Homo sapiens: one gene and its partners. The protein of the gene in region 4 interacts with the protein of the main gene of each other region in a pairwise test. Each region holds a gene or a part of one and is shown on either strand. Other genes may lie near its edges. The genes, in order: ZNF181, SMARCAD1, ZNF451 and CBS.

Region 1 (6,194 bases), on a different chromosome or scaffold from region 4:
AAGGTTGCACGCCCCTTATGTGAATTGAACTAATGCCTGATGATCTGAGGTGAAACAGTTTCACCCCCAAACCACCACCTCCTGCTTCTGTGGAAAAACTGTCTTCCACAAAACCGATCCCTGGTGCCAAAAAGGTTGGGCACCACTGCCTTAGATAGTCCTTAAATAAGACCTGAAAGTAAAGGGAAAAAAATAAAGGGGTACGTTTCAAAGAAAATAAGGAAATGTTCACAGATGTGGCTTAGAAATTCCTTTCAATAGTACTCATTTCACAATATTACTTTTTAGTAAAACTTTGGAAGCTTAAATATTCAATAATAGTTTATTGGCTAGTCAAATTATAATATGTACAAAAAATACATCTATTTAATACAGCATTATTACTGTCTTTGATTTGTGAAACAGACTGCTTGCCTGTGGTAATTTTTTAGCTCTGAGAGTTAATTCAGCATTGTATTACATTATTTGGATATTTTGCATGCATGTTCACCAGTGATACTCGTCTTTGGTTTTAAAGGCAGAATTTATTTTTGCCAGGTGTTGGGAAAATAATTAAAATTCAAATCTCCTGCCAATGGCAGAAAATCCTCTCCACAAATGTAGAAAAAAAGAACACAGTTTTATTACTTAATAATCACTAAATCAACTGTGATGCACTTCACAGGCAATCCACTAATGAGATTAAAAGGACAGGAAGAAATCTCTTTTTTATAGCCAAGCAGATACAATCCAATACATACATTTTCCAAATAATCAAGTAAGACCTTACAGTTCAATTTGCTACACATAATTTATCCTAAATTCACCTGTTAATTGGAGTTGCCACTGTGTTAGTTAATTCCCTTTATCCCAAATCAAAAAAACATTTCTCATAGCTTTATGATGAACAGGTTATTACAAGTTAGAGCCAGGGATGCTTCCTTCTTCCCCTTCAGTTGTCTGGGCAGCCTGGGGTGTTCACTCATCTCTGTCCCCAAAAGAACATAGCCTATCTGTCCTGGCATTTATTTTAATTTCTTATGCTTTCTTACTTTTCTACCAGTGCTGCAATCCTCAATACAGTAGCCACTAGGCAATTTGGCTACATACATTTAAATTAATTAAAATGTAAAAATAAAATAAGTAAAGTTTAAAATTCAGTTTCTCAGTTGCTTAAGCCACAGTTCAAGTACTCAATAGTCATACAGGGCTGGTGGCTACTGTACTGACCAGTACACATGCAGAGCACTTCCACCACTGCAGAAAGTTCTCTTAGACAATACTGCACTAGATCATGAAGTCCTGTGTGTCAGTGTACACCAAAATCCATGTACAACTTTTCCTAACAGATACTTCCTAAGTGTTTAGAAGATGAACCAATGAATGATTTTGGCATTAGTTCACTTTAGCTGTTACTTTTTTCTTGCTCTGCCGCCAGGCTGGAGTGCAGTGACATAATCATAGCTCACTGCAGCCGCACACCACAGGGTTCAAGAAATTTTCTCAACTCATCACCCTCCCGAATAGCTGGAAAAACAGGCATGTACCACCACACCAGTTTTTCAATTCTAATTATCTAACTTCTCCAAGAAAACAGACTTCACCCAACATGTACATCTGCTACTCACATCCCCTCCTATGCAAGCTTCACCTTCCATGCCATGATTCTGCCCCACCAGTTCGTCATTACTCATCTTATTCACTCCACAATTACTTACTAAGCATCTATTTGGTGCCAGGTAACCCTCTGGGTACTGAAGCTATAACAGACAACAAAAAAGAAAAAAGATTCCTCCCACCAGGAACAGACAATGAGCATGTGCATATACTGAACATACAGTACATCAGCTAGTGAGTGACACACACTGTGGAAAACAACAAAGCAGTGATGGAGGAGTGGAAGTGCTAGGCGAGGGAAGGTGACTGCGATTGCAAATAGCCATTCAGGGAAGCTTTTCTGAGAAAGTAACCACGGAACAAACACACGAAGAAGATAAGGATGCAAGTTTGTGCGTATGTGGGGGAAGAATATTCCACGTCGATGGCACAGCAACTAGTGACAGTGGCTAGAGCTCACAGGAATGAGGAGGCAGAGAAGGAAGGTGGGATCAGAAAGGTAATGGCCTAATTGTACAAATAGGTCATTGCAGAAGTGACTCAGTTAGAGCCACTGAAAAATTATAGGTTGAGGAATGACAGGAATTTATGTAACAATAGGACCACGGTCACAGCTGTACTGAGAACAGACTGATGAGGGTTAAGGGCAGATGCAGGGAATCCAGCTAGGAGGCTACCGCAATAATCCAGGTGGCTTTATTGCTATCACTACCGGGGTGGTAGTGGTGGTGGTAGTGCTGGGGTAACTAATGGTCAGATTCTGTATACAGTGTATAGCTTAGCTCCAACTAGAGGATCTGAATATAGGTATAAGTCAAAGGGAAGAATCAAGGATGACTGCAAGCATCTCTTCACTTGAGACCACATGGTACAGTTTTGACAACCATAAACCGAATAACCTTACATTCCAAAGTTGCATTGTGAATTACAGTTTTAAAATGTTGGCAAGACTAGAAAGTCTTCTAGCAGAAAACTGTAGAAAAGAGGAACACTGGGTGAGGAGGATAATACCTTGGAGCTCTCCTGTGGGCTCCGTCCTTCCTATACTGAAAGGAACCATGGATCCAGTCCCTTAAATGGACTTGGTTAGGTGGGAACAGGCAGGAGAAGCAAAGCAAACACACAGTCCTGATAAAGTGTTTCAGGAAGATTTGCGGACACACCGACCTACCTGAGGCATTACTCTGCAATTTCCAACAGCCAACAGAGTCCTCTTTCCAGGCTCTTATCTTAGAGATGGGCAGTGTCCTGAGGGCACAGAAGGGCAGGAAAAAGCAGTCATGAAAAATCAGGCTTATCTTGCGGCACCTGTGACACACCATAATGGAAAGGCACACTGGTAATCACTCTCCAGGGCGCCAATCTCTCCCTGGGAACTAACAGGGTGTTTCTCCGCAAGGGCTAACCATTTACCAGGTGCCACCTGCGAGGAAAATCAATTACTCTGTAAATAAAATCCTCATAAAACAATGGTAAAAACTTTATCAGCTCGTTCAGTCTTCACCACTATGCACGGTGTGCGTTCACATTTTTCCAGATCTATTTTTTAAACGATGACAAAACTGAAATTCCAAGATACTGAACCCATTTGTTCAAGGTTACACAACTGTAGAGCGCCGGCTTCATGACGACATAACCCAAAGACAACTGTGGCTGGCGTCTAACCACGCGCCCACTTCACTCTCACAACAGCGCCAAGAGGTCGGCGCCGTCATCACCCCGCGTTTACATAGGAGGACATGAAGGCCAGGAAAACCAAGGCACCGGCCGGGGTCACACCGCGGGGCAGACCCAGGGCCTGAGCCCCGCCGCCGCCCCCGGGACTCATACTGGCCGGAGTCCTCAGCAGGGCCTCACCGTCCCCGCAGGCGCCCCGCGTCGCTGGTGAGCGGGCAACGGCCGCCGACCTCTGGGGACGACACTGCCCAGAATCGTCCCGGAGCCTGGGAGTCGCCGTCAGGCCTGAGGCTACAGCGGGGCGGACCCAGTGCGCCGCCCACAGCCGATCGACATTTCCCAGAATCATCCGCGCAGGGGACAAAATTCCAGGCGCAACGAACCGCAGGTACCGGAAGACCACACTTCCCAGGAGTCTCTGCGGCCGCGCGGACCTGGGGCGCCGCGGGCAAACAGATCTCGGTTTCCTAAAAAACTAAACCGCCTGGGGCTGTCGTCCCAGAGCCCGGCAGTTAGGACCATGCGGGAAGTGTCCTGGGGCATATAGTCATACTGATGAGGTGAAAGATACACCTCGGAACCAAGGGCCACCCTCTACTTTTAAGGACAATGGCGCCGGGACCAAGAAACTACACTTCCCAGAAAACCGTGCGGCCGTGGCAAACTCTTCTGGGTCTAGCGTGCGCTCACACTAATGTTTATCTCCCGGGACGTGGGCAGACCTTGTACCAGGCGAGCTCTCGCCTTTGCTAGCAAAAGAGCTCCTCTCTTCCCAAACCCTGCTACTACGCTGTCCACCCTGTATGGTCTTTGAGGTCTTTGAGGTTTTTTTGGAATTCACTTGCTGGAGACTACAGCTCACAGAACGCCCTGGGCTGGATTGTGCCAGCTGTAGTTCGCGAACCAAGGACATTTCCTGGAAATGCATGCGGCCACGTATCTGTGACAGAAATGGCAGTTCTCACGTGCGTTACGCCCCCTGGAAGGACTTGGAAATACGGAACTTGAGTGAGCACTGAGAGGACACAGACCCTCATCCTGGGAGGAGTCACTCCTCCCGCAGCCATCAGAGCCTGACAACCGCTTCTCACCAGAGGCGCTTCTTAGACCCTGACCTTGCCCGGCTCACCCAAAGGGGCAATGGCCTTCTTTGTATGCAAGCCAGACAGTCTACTGTTGTATATTTGAATTTTTTACTTTATTTTTAATATTTTAATTAAATTTTAATTTAATGCTGCCTCTACCTCTGAGAGAGACAGGGAGAGATGGGGGAGGCCTGGAGTGGGGGCCCTGCGGGGCAGGGACAGGGGACCCTTCCTCACTTTGCACAATCTGGGAACCCTCCCCAAGCGGAACAGCCAGCTGCAGTGGAAAAGCACTGGCTTAGTGGGCTTCGTCCTGGGGACGAAGGCTGGGAGACTGCAGCTGAAAGGTGTGGGCTCCAGGAGGGCCGCAGGGGGCCTAGCAGCAGCGTCAGGGAGCAGAAGTCCGCCCTCCCTCCATCTTCCTTCCTTCTCTGGCCGCCAGAGCGCTCTGTCTCCCTCCCACGCCCACAGCTACAGGTGGAGCCGGCTTGGGGCGGGGGGGGGGTCCTCCTAGGGCGAAGAGGGCCAGGAGCCTTCCTGAGGACCTGAGGCTCCTCTGGGCCTCCCAGGGCTGGGCCTGTGATCTGATCTGCTTTGCCCTGGGAGGGACGTGCTCAGTGGTGGGGTTTGTGTAGCTGTCACTCATTCACCTGCCTGTGCTCAGCCACTCACCTGCTACTCCCATTGGCACCCACCCAGTACACATGTGGGTCGTCAGCTGCCATCAGGAGTAGTTCCTGCCTGTGTCACACACACCCATCCCACCCACCACACTGCAGGTTACAGGATTGCCCCACAAGCGCCACCATGCCTGCCTGAGGTTACCTGGCACACAAGTATCCTCACCTGCATGACATGACCAGATCGTGCACTTTCTATGCCAGGACCAGGGCCAGGGCAAGCTTGCACCTTCAGCCTTGGGGACACTGGGGGTGGTGGTGGCTGGAGGCCAGGGAAGTCACCAGGCTGGAGACATCATCTACCTCCAGGAGAGGGTTGATATCAGACATCTCCCATGCACCACTTTGAGCTATCTCAGCGTCACCTGGGACTCTGGCTGGCACTGTGACCAGCAGTTCCATGAAGGTTTAGACCACCTCTAGGCTTAGGAAGGGCCTCCCTTGCCATCAGCGTGGTCCAGGCTGCACGCCTGGTGACCAAGGGCTCTGGGCAGCAGATGCAGCCAGCCAGAGTGTTGGGGTGAGGGGCCTGGGCACAGGAGGGACGTGAGGCCTTCCCTGCACCCCCATGACCACCATTTCAGAGGGAGGACAGCAATTGTTTGGGTTTGTCCTGTGAGCGGTGGCAGAGGGCAGGGCCCAGGGCAGGTCCAGGGCCAGACAGGCATCCCATGCTACAGCCTCGGGGCCACGAGGGCACATGATGGGGTCGGTGTGAGGGCATCCCCTGTGCCAAATACCTGGGCAGGAGGTGCCCTGGGGTTGGTGGGTGGGTCAGGGCATTTGCAGGATTTCTGGTTTCTGTTGGAGTTGTATGTCCTGGAGAATGGAGGGAAGAGAGAAAGGGTGAAGAGAAGGGGGAAACGACCCCTGCTGCTTCCTGGCCTCTAAGTAGGGGGTGATGGGTGGTTGGTGAGTGGCAGAGGGGTCAGCGGGAGCTTCAAGGCTGAGCCAGGGAAGCGGAGGCAGCAGGGATGCAGACCTTGCCTGAGGCTGGCTCGGGGCTGGGGCTTCTTAGAGGTCAGGGCCCTAGAGCTCCCGGACAGGGAGTCTGCAGGAACAGTGACACAGCACATGACACAGCACAACTCAACACAACACAACCTGGCACAGCAGAGCAGCGTGCTGTGCACTGGGCTGCAGGAGAACACGGAGT
Region 2 (5,499 bases), on a different chromosome or scaffold from region 4:
ACCCACCTCAGCGTCCCCAAGTTCTGGGATTACAGGCATGCACCATGGCACCCAACCTATTTAGGTTATTTCCAGTGTTTGGCTATTAAGATAAAACTATGAACATTCTTACCCAAGTCCTTTTGCCAACATAAGCGCTCATATCTCATGATTATATTCTTAAGGGTAGAATTGCTGGGATAGATTAGGCATATGTTTCCTCCATTTAGTCATGGGACATTGCCCTTAAACCATTCAGTGGATATTAAACATTCACTGTGTCTAAGCAATAACCAAAATTATATCCTTTCCATGCAATGCAAAAAGTCTTCCATATTAATGTGTATTGTATATGAACTAGCAATGAAGATCTATCCACTGCTCAGTAAAGTAAGTTATAGCATCATTTGGAGATTATAATCAATTCTGTCATTTGAGAACTAAGAACATAGTAGAAATTCCTTTAGAGTTGCATTCTGGGAAATCAAAAGTGAATACAGCACAGAATTACTGCTTTTTCTTCTGTATTTTTATGTATTTATTTTTTGTTTGTTTTAAAATGTTATATATTGTCTTTTAAACTTTTTAGGGCCTAGGAAAAACTATTCAAGCCATTGCATTTCTGGCATACCTCTATCAGGAGGGTAATAATGGTCCTCATTTGATCGTTGTTCCAGCTTCAACTATAGGTTTGTAATACTGGAGACAACTGTATTTAACTTTATCATGTTTTATATAGGTAGAAGAGAGTGTGTGTAAGGGTGTGTGTCGGAGGGGTGTTGTGGTTTCTTAGTTTGTAGAGATGAATATTAATTTTATGGTCTCTTTATACTTTTCTCCTTTGTTTATATATGTGTGTTTGATTATATTGGCAGTCTTTTAAAAAGAACTCAAATGTAAGTCAGTTTTAAAATTTTAGACCAAGGACGATTTATGTTGGTTTCATAATACTTTTAGTTACTTTTAAAAGTGACTAAGAGAAAATGAGTACTTTTAAATGTAGAATTAAACAGATACGTAATTAATTCCTACACACATAACTGTTCCATTCTTTCTCAATTCGTTGGATGTAGAAGTTAGAATAAGAGAATATTTGTACATGTGAATGTAACAAAGAAAACCCCCTTCTCTTTAAATTGGAGGTTAATAATCAACTGTAAATATAATATTTGGTCATCTGCCCTTCATTTTGATGCCTCACAAAACCTCAAGATCATTTTACATAGGTTTCATAAGGAGTAATATTGTAAAGGGTCTGTGATAAAAACAATCGCCATGGTATTTATATTTTAATTTTTAATTTTTATTTATTTTTTTTAAGACAGTCTCGCTGTGTCACCCAGGCTGGAGTGTGGTGGCTCAATCTTGGCTCACCGCAACCTCCGCCTCCCAGGTTCTCGTGCCTCAGCCTCCCGAGTAGCTGGGACTACAGGCGCCCGCCACCATGCCTGGCTAATTTTTGTATTTTTAGTGGAGATGGGGTTTCACCATGTTGGCCAGGCTGGTATCAAACTCCTGACCTCAGGTGATCCACCCGCCTCAGCTTCCCAAAGTGTTGGGATTACAGGCATGAGCCACCTTGCTGGGCCAGTATTTACTTTTTATAAAAGACTGATTTCTGAGTAGCACTTGTCAAAGTTTAGTGTTAATTTAACCATGTGAACATACCCTATTGTAGCAGATGCAAATAATGTCTCTTCTGTTCCATAGATAACTGGTTAAGGGAAGTTAATTTATGGTGCCCTACTTTGAAGGTCCTCTGTTACTATGGTAAGAATATGTCATTCTGCTTTTAACTTTGGAAATTAAAAATAAAGTACAGCACAATAAATAGTCATGTGTTTATTGTTTTTAAATTCTAGGTTCTCAAGAAGAACGTAAACAAATTAGATTTAACATTCATAGTAGATATGAAGATTACAATGTAATTGTGACCACGTAAGTATTGAGAAATTTGGGGAGGATGGATATTTATGCAGCCCCCAAATTTAAAAAAGAAATTGTAGTAGTACTATGTAGGAAAGTTTATGCTGTTAACTGTGATACGAAAGTAATAGAATGACTAATGTTGAGGATTCAGGCATTTTTTAGTTTGGTGTGTAATACCCATATAGGAGGTTTTTGTTAGTGAATCACCTCATTAATGGTGACTATAAAAAGGTTTTGCCTAGTTATTGAAAAAAGTCGTCTTGTAATAGTAATTTCTCAGTTAAGCTTAAAGTAAAATTTGAGATATCCCACCAAAATTATTTATATTTTTAACTTACAAATAAGTATCTGTAATAAATACAATGAAATTTCATTTTCTCAATGAAAAATTTGAGTTAGGGCAGAAATAAAAATGAAAAATAATACTAATAATACTACTTGGTAATAATTGATGTAAATATCTTGCACAGAACTTAATGCTCTTGTGTTACATTAGTTGATTTATTTAAAGTTCTATTTTAACTGTAGTTATTATTTCTCTCTACTGGCTTCTTGTGTAGGAGTCTGTCCTTTAAAAATTCATGCGGAATTTTATTTTTTCTTAATAAAACAGGCTCCATATGCAGTCTCAAGCTGCTAGCTATTAACTATTATTTCTTGGATCTAATCTGCTAGTTTAATAAAATATTAAGTTTTAAAGAGAAACATGTTTTAGCTTCACGTTCTTTTTTGTGCTTATTAAAATATAACACTTCATGGAGCAGATTACTTACAAGTTATACCCAAATTGACCTCCTCCTGGGTATGTAGAAGTTGTCCGATTGTAACATTAACATTTTCTTTTTTTTTTTTTTTTTTGAGACGGAGTCTCACTCTGTCCCCCAGGCTAGAGTGCAGTGGCGCGATCTCAGCTTACTGCAACCTCTTGCCTCCCGGGTTCACGCCATTCTCCTGCCTCAGCCTCCTGAATAGCTGGGACTACAGGCGCCCACCACCACACCCGGCTAATTTTTTATATTTTTAGTAGAGACAGGGTTTCACCGTGTTAGCCAGGATGGTCTCGATCTTCTGACCTCGTGATCCGCCCGCCTCGGCCTCCAAAAGTGCTGGGATTACAGGTGTGAGCCACCGCTCCCAGCCTTTTAACATTTTCTTTCAATTATGTATTGCAGCTTTCATAGCTTGGTTACAGTGTACATCAATAATTATTAAATACAAGTACGTCAGTATTTATTTGAGTATCACCCGTGTCTAGTGCTGTGCTTTAAGTACTGGCTGTTAGAAATGTGTAAATAAAAAATGATTTTATAAGACATTAAATTTCACTAGACTCCAAGCTCTTAAAGGTATAACCTTAGAGATGTTTTTTCTTTTGGTGACAGATATAACTGTGCGATCAGCAGTTCTGATGACCGTAGTCTGTTTCGACGGCTGAAACTTAATTACGCAATTTTTGATGAGGGCCATATGCTGAAGAATATGGGCTCCATTCGCTACCAGCACCTTATGACAATTAATGTAAGAGAATGTTTGTAAAGTTTTCCAAATTACTGTAAAATTTAGATTACGTAATTTAATATATGTAGTATTTATTAGCAGAATCTGTATTATGTAGTTTAATATATGTAGTATTCTGTGTTAGCAAGTTTTTTCTGTAAAAGGGAAGATAGTAAATATTTCACACTTTATGGACTAGATGGCCTCTGTCACGTATTCTTTGATTTTGTTTTTTAACAACCCTTTAAAAAATTATTAGGTCATAAGCCATAATTTACCTGTTCTATATGTTAAACTATTTATAAATAATCTTTCATCATCTCATAAAGGTGATACGAGGACACAAGTTACCTACTTATAAAAGAAGACCAATGGTTTTCGTATTCATTGCTGTTGATAATAGCGGACGTCAATTATTTAAATTACTATATCATTTATCACAGAATGTTAAATTATTAATAATGGTTTTAATTTATCTCTCCTCCCTTCACCTTTCACTGGGGAGGATAGACATGAAAGGAGTGGCTCTTTAAGAAAAAGCTAATATAAATTTTACCTTCATTCACAGGCAAATAACCGTTTGCTGCTCACAGGCACACCTGTACAGAACAATCTGTTAGAACTCATGTCGCTGTTGAATTTTGTTATGCCACACATGTTTAGTAGTAGCACCAGTGAAATACGAAGAATGTTTTCCTCTAAGACAGTAAGCATAAATGCATATTTTCTCCCAAATATGTTATTTGTGTTTTATCTGGGCCATTCTTCTGTTAGGTCTCTTTTGTTGTTTTCATAGTGCATATGCTCTATGAAGTAACTTTAAGTAGGTGATAACTCTATATTTGGATTGGTTTGGAAACCAGCCAAAATATAATGGGAAAGAAAATAGCAATTTCCCTAATCAATGGCCAGAAGTCTTGGTTAATATCCTAATTTTCTGAAGGATGACGATTTTAAATTGATGAAGAGCTCAGATATATAGTATGTGCGGAAAGTTTGATCATTACATCATCTGTATCAAAATTGGCTACGTAAATTAGTAACATTTCTTTATGGGTAAACTATAAAACTAGACAAAGCTAGAATATCCAGAAAATGCCTATGCTGAGAAATATATTCTGAAATAAAAGTTCATAAAACCAAAGTCACAACTAAAAGCGACAGTAAAGAAATCCTCTTCACAAGAAAAGTTTTGTTACTTCTTTATTGTTTAGGAAAAGTATAGTCTTCAAGAACTCCCAGTTTTTTCAATACCGCAGTGTTTACACTGATTCTTGGCTCTCTTCCACATCACTAATCTTTTGCAAGAATTTTCTGTGATACTCGTCCACTGCAAATTAACTGCCTTTTAAACATTTACTAATTTGAATTCCCTCCCACTTAATGTACAGTGTTTTAAATGGCCTAGCAGATTTTATGAACCATTTTCTATCTTCAGTTCATAATATATGGAGGACTCCTTCACATCCTAGAATAAAATTCTACTTCTTAATTCTCCAGAGTCACCAGTTCTGACTAAGCACTATTCCCCATTTTTAGACCAAGTGATTTGCATCAGTCTGCACTAGCTTCCTTTTGGGGCCATTTTCCACAAAGAAATAAAGGATTTTCTACCCCCCACGCTCCTCCTTACCCACACTTAGACACATTTTTCAATGAGAGTTATCTAGGTAATCGATACATGACTCATCAGTTGATGACTTCTGAACACCCATCTGGTACAGTTCAAATTGATTACTTCAGTAGAGAACATGATTACGTATCATAAAACTTCAAAATACATATGGAGCTTCAAGAAGTACATGGCAGCCCAGAATTCAGATGTGAAGTGCCATCTAGAATGAATCAAGTTTCTGCAGAAAATAACTCAGACTCTAATGAGGGAGATTTTTATGTTGTGTAATAATACTGTTATTGCAATAATTTAAGTGAATAATTCCTAAAAGGATATGTTTTTATTTTGCTCAGAAATCAGCAGATGAGCAAAGCATATATGAAAAGGAGAGAATAGCACATGCAAAACAAATTATAAAGCCATTTATTCTCAGAAGAGTAAAAGAAGAGGTAATGCATATCTACATGTTTTTTATTTTT
Region 3 (5,499 bases), on a different chromosome or scaffold from region 4:
ACGTTTTTTAGAAGTCACACAATCAGGTTTCCCTTCACATGACTCCGCTTCAGATTGTAATGTCACCCTTTTTATAACACCTCTTTGTTCCATTCTCTTCAAAAGACCTGTGAAACTAGATTGGCTGGGGTCAGATGGCTGCCCTTTGTCATCAGCTGATGGTGATTTGTAATCAGTTTCTTCTTCAACTGTGGATAAATTTTCCTCTTTAGAGGTGGAGATGTCCCAAGGAACTGAGGAGTTCTCACTTGGCCTAGAATGATGAAATCTAAAACAGCTCCTGGACTGCAGATCACGTATCACTCGGGACATTTCAGCTACTTGTGTCTGGAGATAGAGGATGGCATCCCGTCCATGCTGTGAAGCTGAAGAAGAATCTATACGTAAATTCTCTTTGACCTCAGAAGAGGCCAAAGATTCTTGGGGGACCAGAAGTGGAGATGAAGGCAGAGTCTGAAAATTCTGTGATGATTTAAGGGTCTCTGTCTCAGAGATCTTAGTATCTGAATTATTTTGATCATTTTTCTGGTTCTCCAATGGGTTCTCAACAGAGGAAGTTTGAGAAACTATCCTTTCTGGACTGCTGGAACAACTCCCAGAGAAGGAGCTGCTATCTCCAATGGGAAGAGGAACATTGCAGCTAGAGCACATTTCTGGGCGATGATTCTCAGAGGATGGCACCTTAGATTCAGGCATTCTCTGGGTTATCCACATGAACAAGAAAACCAAGGAAGAAAAAAAATATGCTTTTAATATGTTAACTTTCAAGTGCAGAGATTCATGTCCAGTAAGTAGAACTCAATTTTTAAATTATTATAATTAACAGTGAAAGATACAATCCACTCAAGGTCAGCAAAAGGAATCAGAGAAGTCAAATCCACAAGCTTCACTACCCCAAAGACCCAAAATCAACTACTGGCATTAATCTGGGACTCTGTTTATGAAAAAGGAGAGAGTAAAAACAAGCTCAGATCACGTGGTGCTATGCTGGCCTGCTGTTTGGTCCTGTGTGAGACCACTCATAAGAATAAAAGAAAAAAATATCCCATTCAAGATATGTTAAGTTCTACTCAAGATATGCAAGAAGCTAATGATGGCAAAGAGAACTTAAGGAAAGTTCCACTGAGAAGAAAAAAAATCTAAAACTCCCCCATTAGAGTCATTTTAGGCACCTCTGAAAATTCTGTCATTCACTGTCCACGAATAACAAAACTTCCCAGTTGTATAGTCCTACTTTATGGTTTGTAGTTATAAGAAGTTATAATTTGTTACCTCATTTCATCCTCACAACAACCCTGTGAGGTAGGTATTATTTGATTAAAAAACGGAGGCTAAAAGGTTACTTAATTTATCCAAAGTCACAGAATTTGTAAAGAGTAAAGCTGGGACTCAAACCCAGGTATTCTGATTCCAAGTCCAAGTCTCAATCCCCTATATCACAGAGCAAGAAGTTTGTGGCCACTCTGAACAATAACTAAGAGTTTTCTAATCCAAGATGAAAACAGCTCATTAACAGAAGTTTGGGCTAAAGCAAGGACAAATGAAAGGCAAGACTGTTACAAAGGGCTCAACTAGTTCAATTCTCAGAGCAAGGGAAGTATTGGTCCAAGGGTCAAACCTACAACCAGTACATCACAGGTAAGATAAATAACTCCAAATATGTGGGGCACAGACAAGGTTAAAGGGATGATGACTGAAGTAATATATCCCCTATAAACCCTTCCCCCACTTTCCATTCCTAAAAGGATCTCTACATATCCTTTTTTCTAAGAGAAAACAAATTTTCTGTGGTCATGTGGTTCTGGAACAAAAGAATCCTGTTGTATAGGGCACCTGAGGAGAGTAAAGGAAAAGAGAAGGGAAAGAGGAATCAATAAGCTTGCAGTTTTTATTCCATTTCCATTTTATCAGATATCACCTCTAAGGCTCTGAATTTCCCAGAGTCATATTATCATTTTTTTCATAATCTCATTCAAAGTAGAGGAAAAAAACTGGAAGTAGGAGATCTGGGCAAAGGACTCCTTGGACTACCTATTTTAGCCCATTCTAATAGAACTGGCTATTTCTAAACACAGCCTTCCCTGATTTGGTAACTCTCTTTAGAGAATACCTCTTAAAAGACACAAGTGAAGAAACACAAATCAAATATAATGTACTTACATCAGTATAAGAGGTGCTAGGCTCTTCATCATCACTGCTGACCAGATCAATGTATTCAAGAACAGGTCGTAATGGTCCTTCCTATAAACAATCAAGCAAATTTAGAAGTCATTAACAGTTATTCAAACCAAATTAGCATTTAAACCTACAGTGTTTTTTTTGGTTGGGACTGGCAAGAATTACTCTGAAGAGGGAGCTTTGTGGGTAGCAGAAAATAACCAGAACAAAAGCAGCAGAGGAAAATATTCAAAATATATAAATGTAAAATGATGACAAGACCTAAAAGGAAGCACCTACACCCCTGTAGAATATTAGGGCCATGTCAATTACTTGGGAAAGGAAAATTAATATAAGAACAGTGCTACAAAGACACAAATATTATAATCCAGTGCTTTACACCTAGAATTGGTATCAAAAGTCTGTTAATATATCCAAGTTCAAAAATGAATTGACTTATAGCTCAGCTTCATCATCCACCACTGCAGAGTCAAGCATCAAACCTGAATTCTTTTCCATTCTTTCTTTCCATCCATGCCAATTTCTTCATCAACCAGGCCTTGAATGTCAGGCTTAAAAGCCTAGATTTTATTCAATAGGCAAAAGAAAATAAAAAATAATAATAAGACAATAACATGAGAACTGTGCTTCAAGATCAATCACATAGAGGAGTATGGAGAGCAGGGAAAGCAAGATAATCAGTATAGGCACATGACAATGCAGAACTAATGGTGGTGATGGCAAGAAGAGTATGGTAGTGGATATACAAGAGAATACAAGTAAAATGGAAAACTAAAAGAGATTGATTATTAGGCCAGGTGTGGTGGCTCATGTCTGTAATCCCACCACTTTGGGAGGCCAAGGTGGGGGATCACCTGAGGTTAGAACCATGCCTGGCTAATTTGTGTACTTTTAGTACAGATGGGGTTTTACCATGTTGGCCAGGCTGGAGTTCGAGACCAGCCTGACCAACATGGTAAAACTCCATCTCTACTAAAAATGTACAAATTAGCCAGGCATGGTGGTGCGTGCCTGTAGTCCCAGCTACTCAGGAGGCTGAGGCTGGAGAATTGCTTGAACCTGGGAGGCAGCAGTTGCAGTGAGCCAAGATCACGCCACTGCACTCCAGCCCGGGCAACAGAGCAAGACTATCCCAATAATAATAATAATAATAATAATAAATATATAAATAAAAATAAATTTAAAAGATTATTTAAAAAACAAAACAAGGAGTCAGTGATCTCTAAGTTTTTAACCTCAGGTGACTATAAGAATAGTAATGCCAATAGTATAACTTTGGAAAGCAGAAACAGAAAGCTGACATTCCTATGGGCTGAAGTAACAGTGGTACACAGGGTGTATCTAGCAGACAGCTGGAAATGCAGGCCTGTAATCTGGGAAGTATGAACATACCTGGAAATAAAGACTTGAGAGTTGCTCCCCTAGAAGACTATTAAACTCTAGAACTAAACTGAACTATCATATTGCCTCAATAAAAAGCTGTCAGTGTTAAATGTGGCCAGAAACACGGCAACAATAAAATGCCACTGAATGTGGCAACCAGACATTTTTAAATGTCTTTGAGAGAGCAACTTTCAAGAAAGTAGTGAGCACAGAAGCCAGGCTCTAAAACACTAGAGAATGCAGTAGAAAAGGCCATATTCTTTTGAGAAATCCAGTATGTTGGAAACAAAAGAAAGGAACACAGAAGAAATAATAGCTGAGGAAAGGATTTTGTAGGATGTAGAAAGTTGACTGCTGGAGACAGAAGCTGAGATCTAGGTAATGATCTTCCCTAGAATAGGCATCCAGTCTCAAAGATAGCTTCTTTCTCCCCTAGGCTATGACTTCTGCTCAACCAAGAAACTGCCATCTTTTGGGTACTAATTCAGATACCAAGATAAAACAAGAGGGCAAAACTGGGCAGGGATCTGTAGCAAAGGAATTGAGATTTTTGCTCAAACTATAAACACGGAAGTAAAAATTAAAGAAACAGAGGAAGCAATACTCTCCAATATATGGTAAACAGAGCTGAATCACCTACTTTAAAATCTACATCTGGTATGAAGAATGTAGGCCATGCACGGTGGCTCACACCTGTAATTCCAGCACCTTGGGAGGCAGAGGTGGGTAGATGACTTGAGGTCAGGAGTTCAAGACCAGCCTGGCCAACATGGTGAAACCCTGTCTCCACTAAAAATAGGAATAGGGTGTAGTGGCGGGCACCTGTAGTCCCAGCTACCCAGGAGGCTGAGGCAGATGAATTGCTTGAACCCAGGAGGCAGAGGCTGCAGTGAGCTGAGATGGTGCCACTGCACTCCAGCCTGGGCAACAGAGCAAGACTCTGTCACAAAAAAAAAAAAAAAAAAAAAAAAAAGACTGAAAATTGTATGTTCGATCCAAGAAGAAAAATTAAAATGATAGCTTTTCCCATTGATATAATCATCTTACTTTGCTCTCTACAAGAAATATGCATTAGGAACCTTCATTATAGGTCCACAGAAATAGCAGAACACAAAAGCGCCCCCCTACCCCCCCGCCCCGGTAACCAGAAATACACAGAGGCAGAGTTCCCATGCACAGAAAGTAAAGAAGAAGATGAAAGATGACAGGATGCAAGGTAAAAAGTAAAATGGGCTGGAAAAAAATAAGATAAACAGGCTGGGCACGGTGGCTCATGCCTGTAATCCCAGCACTTTGGGAGACCAAGGTGGGCGAATTGCCTGAGGTCAGGAATTTGAGACCAGCCTGGCCAACATGGTAAAACCCTGTCTCCACTAAAAATACAAAAAATTAGCCAGGCATGGTGGTGGGCGCCTCTAATTCCAGCTACTCAGGAGACTGAGGCAGGAGAATTGCTTGAACCCGGGAGGCAGAGGTTGCAGTGAGCCAAGACTGTCCCACTGCACTCCAGCCTGGGTGACAAGAGCGAAACTCCATCTCAAAAAAAAAAAAAAAAAAAAAAAAACAGAAAGAAAGAAAGGAAGAAAGAAAATGATCAAAAACATAATTTAAAAATAGCTGCAGGCAGGATGGCTCATGCCTGTAATCTCAGCACTTTGGGAGGCCAAGGCAGGTGGACCACATGAGGCCATGAGTTCGAGACCATCTGGGCCAACATGGCAAAACTCTGTCTCTATTAAAAATACAAAAATTAGCTGGGCGTGGTGGTGTACATCTGTAATCCCAGCTACTCAGGAGGCCGAAGAACAAGAATCGCTTTAGCCCAGGAGGCAGAAGTTGCAGAGAGCTGAGATCACGCCAGTGCACTCCAGCCTGGGCAACAGAGAGGGACTCTTGTCTCAACAACAACAACAACAACAACAACAAAAAAAAAAAGCT
Region 4 (3,680 bases):
GCCTGGCACACAAGACGAGCACCCGGAGTCTGCTCTTCCTGTGCCTGTGTACCCGGCTGGGCCTGGAGGAACCAGATCTCCTGTCCTGCGCCGCTGCCTCCTCCTCCTTGACGTGTACCTTTTATTTCTGCCTCTGGCAGCCTCTCTCCCCCTGCACTTGAAGGCAGAAGCAGCCATGTTGGGCAATTTTGGAATCCCACAGAACCCTCTTCCCTGGGCCCTAAGGGAACCGGCATCGGGGTGTGCCCCTGTGTCCCAGGCAGGGGCGGGGCAGGGCTTGGGGGGTCACTGGGCCCCTCTCACCCTCTGTGTGCCCTCAGGGATCGGGCTGGCCCTGGCTGCGGCAGTGAGGGGCTATCGCTGCATCATCGTGATGCCAGAGAAGATGAGCTCCGAGAAGGTGGGTGGGCGTGGCCAGGGGCGGGGTCATAGGGCAGGGGATGAGGGTGCCTGGGCCAGGCGGAAGGTGCAGGCCACCGCTTTCCCTCCTGCAGGTGGACGTGCTGCGGGCACTGGGGGCTGAGATTGTGAGGACGCCCACCAATGCCAGGTTCGACTCCCCGGAGTCACACGTGGGGGTGGCCTGGCGGCTGAAGAACGAAATCCCCAATTCTCACATCCTAGACCAGGTGAGGCACCTGGGGCCTGGAGACAGGCATTCCCTAGGAGGGTCTCGGTCAGGGATGTGGGGGTGACTGAGGTGTCAGGGGTCAGCTCACGGGCTCTGCTCTCTTTCTATGCAGTACCGCAACGCCAGCAACCCCCTGGCTCACTACGACACCACCGCTGATGAGATCCTGCAGCAGTGTGATGGTGCGTCCCTCTGTCCATCTTGATTGCATTTATCCCTGGCTGCCTGGGAGTGTACACATCTCTTGCCCTCTCCTTGGTGAACTCCTATTCACCCTTCAGAACCCAGCTCAAATGTTCCCTCTGTGAAATGCTTTTCTAGAGCATTTCTCTAGAACAATTTCCTCCCTCCGTTGTGCCCTCTTGGCCTCCGCCTGTGGTTTACCTGTAATAGCAAACACAGGGCATGGCTGTATTTGTTTACCCAGCAATCTCTGCAGGTCTGCAGGGGCTCCTCCTGCAGATAATGCAGACAGCGAGTCTGTTCAGGGCCCAGGCTGGTGCTGGGCTCACAGCTTGGACTTCATTTGGGATCATGCCCTGACTCGGCATCAAATTCATCTGCAGAACAGAGCTGGTGACATCTGCGATGAGCTCACTCTCTGTTACAAGCATGAGGCCGGCTCCTTGGGCCCTTTTCCAGGGACTCGGTGCCAAGGCCTGTGGGGGTTGGTACTGAGGTTTTCCCAAGAGATCCCTTTAGAGATAAGTTGCCAAGAGGTTGGCGCCCTGGCTTCCTATTGGGAATCCGGTGTTGGCATGGGCTGGAGTACACCCTCAGTCCGTGCCCAGGAGCCGGGCTGTAAGGTCCAGGCATTTGGTTGTTTGGGCTTTATGTGTGAGAACTCTCTCATTTGGCAAAAACAGTCCTGTCTCAGCATGGGTGCCCAAGCTGCTCCGTCTCGCTGAGTCTTTCCCTGCTGTGACTTCTCCACCAGATGCCCGCGCTGGCGGCCAGCAGTGTGAGCGCCCAGCGAGTTTCTGCGCTGAAGCCTAAAAGACTGATTCCATTTCCTGTGTAAATTCAGTTAACTCACTCACACCACGCAAACATCCAACAGCCCACGGAGGTGGTTAATTCACAGCCTCCCTCTGCCCGCCCTCAGCGCCTGCACCCCCCGGACAGGGTCCTGTCTTTCTGCATCCAGCCAAATGGGGGTTTTAGGGGTCGAGTGTCACTGAGCAAAGACTGGGCTGGGGTGCCCCAGGCTGCCTGTTTCTGAGGCTTTCACAGACCAAGGGCAGCAACGAGGGCTGCTCCAACTGGAGAAGAAGTTTTTCTTTTGAACTTTTTGGTTACCCACCGTGGTTTGGGCTGAGTGTGTTTTCAATGATTATTACTATGAGTGATGGGCTGGCCAGGCAGGGACCCAAGAATGTTATCCGTCCACCAGGGAAGCTGGACATGCTGGTGGCTTCAGTGGGCACGGGCGGCACCATCACGGGCATTGCCAGGAAGCTGAAGGAGAAGTGTCCTGGATGCAGGGTGAGTGGTGTGGCCGGGCCGGAGAGGGGCAGTGCGGAGTGGCCCCGGCTTCTGAGCTGAAAGCTGTCATTCCTCACGGTCTGCTCAGCACGCTGTCTCCCGCGGTATTTCTGCGCTGCCTGGGAGGTGTTTGGGAAGACAAGGGTGCTTGACACATAAGGGACCAGCAGCTCGTGACCCGAAGGAGCTGGGGCTGGGTGCTCGCTCACCGGCCAGTGTCTTGGAGAACCTTCCTGCGCTGAGTGGGGGGTCGGAGTTCCAACTGGGGGCCTCTGAGGATCAGCCAGGAGCTCTAAGTCCTCTGGTCCTGAGTCTGCCCCTCAACTGGGGCTTGTGGGAGTTGGGAGAGGGTTCCTGGACTCGGGGTTAAGAGCAGGTCTGAGGACGGGTGCCTAGAAAGGTCCCGCTGATGAGACAAGGGCGTTCTCTCCCTGTTGCTTGCCCTTGAAAAAGACGTCACTGCCCAGCAATGCCCTTTGTCCCCAAAGGCTCTGCTGCTCCGCCGCAGGGTGGTCTGTCTGGACTGTCCTGGGGGCCCCGCTCCGAGAAGCACCCCGGGGAGGTCAGTTCCTCCCAGGCACCTGCCTTTACTTCTGAGCGCCCTGCACTGAACATTTAGGTCATTACCGCTTTAATACTTGGAGCCTGGGTTCTTGGGTTTCTCATCCTGCCTCTGAGGCTGGGAACAGGCCACCACCCACAGGCAGATCATTAACAGGCAGTTGTTAACGGCGGTATTGGCCACTCCCATAATAGAATATCGAGGCATGTCCAGGCGGGGCTTTTGCTGGCCTTGAGCCCTGAAGCCGCGCCCTCTGCAGATCATTGGGGTGGATCCCGAAGGGTCCATCCTCGCAGAGCCGGAGGAGCTGAACCAGACGGAGCAGACAACCTACGAGGTGGAAGGGATCGGCTACGACTTCATCCCCACGGTGCTGGACAGGACGGTAGGTCGAGTCCAGAGCCCGGCCACAGTGCCGGTGCAGCCTGTAACTCACCCTCACACTGGGGAGCCTGGCTGACCCTGGGCCCCAACCAGCTTCTCCACTGAAACAGAAGGGCAAGCCCCGCACGCATGGTGAGAAGCTGGTCTCGAAGGTCGAGACAAAGTAGACTGGGGGACGATGTCCGCACACGTGGCCTGACCTCACCAAGGGATGTAGCCCAGGTGGCACAGGCAGGGAGCAGGGAAAACGTGTGAAAATTAAGGCCCCGGAAAAGTCTGTTAAGAGCCAAAAAGCTGACTTTGGCCTGAGGGAGAGCAGAGACCGAAGGGCCGGTGTGGGTCACACGGATGCTCAGTGGGGCTGGCGGGCAGTTTTGCTGTCTGCAAAACGTGTTGGAACTGGAAAGTCTGCAGACGTGCCGATCCCAGGGGGAGAGGCTGGGGTGAGACCTCTGGGGTCCTACCGCCTAGACACGGGGTCCACCATGAGGCTGTTCACCCTCTTGGTCACGTGGGAGCGGCTCCCACGCTGACGGGCTGTGGTGGGGTCCTGCTCAGGTGGTGGACAAGTGGTTCAAGAGCAACGATGAGGAGGCGTTCACCTTTGCCCGCATGCTG

Evidence for each region.
Region 1: the proteins of CBS (region 4) and ZNF181 interact in a two-hybrid assay, tested with the Homo sapiens proteins (one large-scale study listed by BioGRID).
Region 2: the proteins of CBS (region 4) and SMARCAD1 interact in a two-hybrid assay, tested with the Homo sapiens proteins (one large-scale study listed by BioGRID).
Region 3: the proteins of CBS (region 4) and ZNF451 interact in a two-hybrid assay, tested with the Homo sapiens proteins (one large-scale study listed by BioGRID).

What each region holds. Positions count from the first base shown.
Region 1 is NC_000019.10:34,731,620-34,737,813, reverse strand, and holds the start of ZNF181 (zinc finger protein 181), read right to left. Parts: upstream 3,572-6,194; 5' UTR 2,777-3,571; coding exon 2,768-2,776; intron 1-2,767. UniProt on the Homo sapiens protein: May be involved in transcriptional regulation.
Region 2 is NC_000004.12:94,273,049-94,278,547, forward strand, and holds part of SMARCAD1 (SWI/SNF-related matrix-associated actin-dependent regulator of chromatin subfamily A containing DEAD/H box 1), read left to right. Parts: intron 1-568; coding exon 569-668; intron 669-1,689; coding exon 1,690-1,749; intron 1,750-1,841; coding exon 1,842-1,917; intron 1,918-3,290; coding exon 3,291-3,426; intron 3,427-3,973; coding exon 3,974-4,111; intron 4,112-5,373; coding exon 5,374-5,469; intron 5,470-5,499. UniProt on the Homo sapiens protein: DNA helicase that possesses intrinsic ATP-dependent nucleosome-remodeling activity and is both required for DNA repair and heterochromatin organization.
Region 3 is NC_000006.12:57,095,803-57,101,301, reverse strand, and holds part of ZNF451 (E3 SUMO-protein ligase ZNF451), read right to left. Parts: intron 2,242-5,499; coding exon 2,161-2,241; intron 700-2,160; coding exon of another isoform or gene 1-699. UniProt on the Homo sapiens protein: E3 SUMO-protein ligase; has a preference for SUMO2 and SUMO3 and facilitates UBE2I/UBC9-mediated sumoylation of target proteins. Plays a role in protein SUMO2 modification in response to stress caused by DNA damage and by proteasome inhibitors (in vitro).
Region 4 is NC_000021.9:43,062,336-43,066,015, reverse strand, and holds part of CBS (cystathionine beta-synthase), read left to right. Parts: intron 1-320; coding exon 321-400; intron 401-494; coding exon 495-629; intron 630-743; coding exon 744-813; intron 814-2,024; coding exon 2,025-2,116; intron 2,117-2,937; coding exon 2,938-3,063; intron 3,064-3,620; coding exon 3,621-3,680. UniProt on the Homo sapiens protein: Hydro-lyase catalyzing the first step of the transsulfuration pathway, where the hydroxyl group of L-serine is displaced by L-homocysteine in a beta-replacement reaction to form L-cystathionine, the precursor of L-cysteine.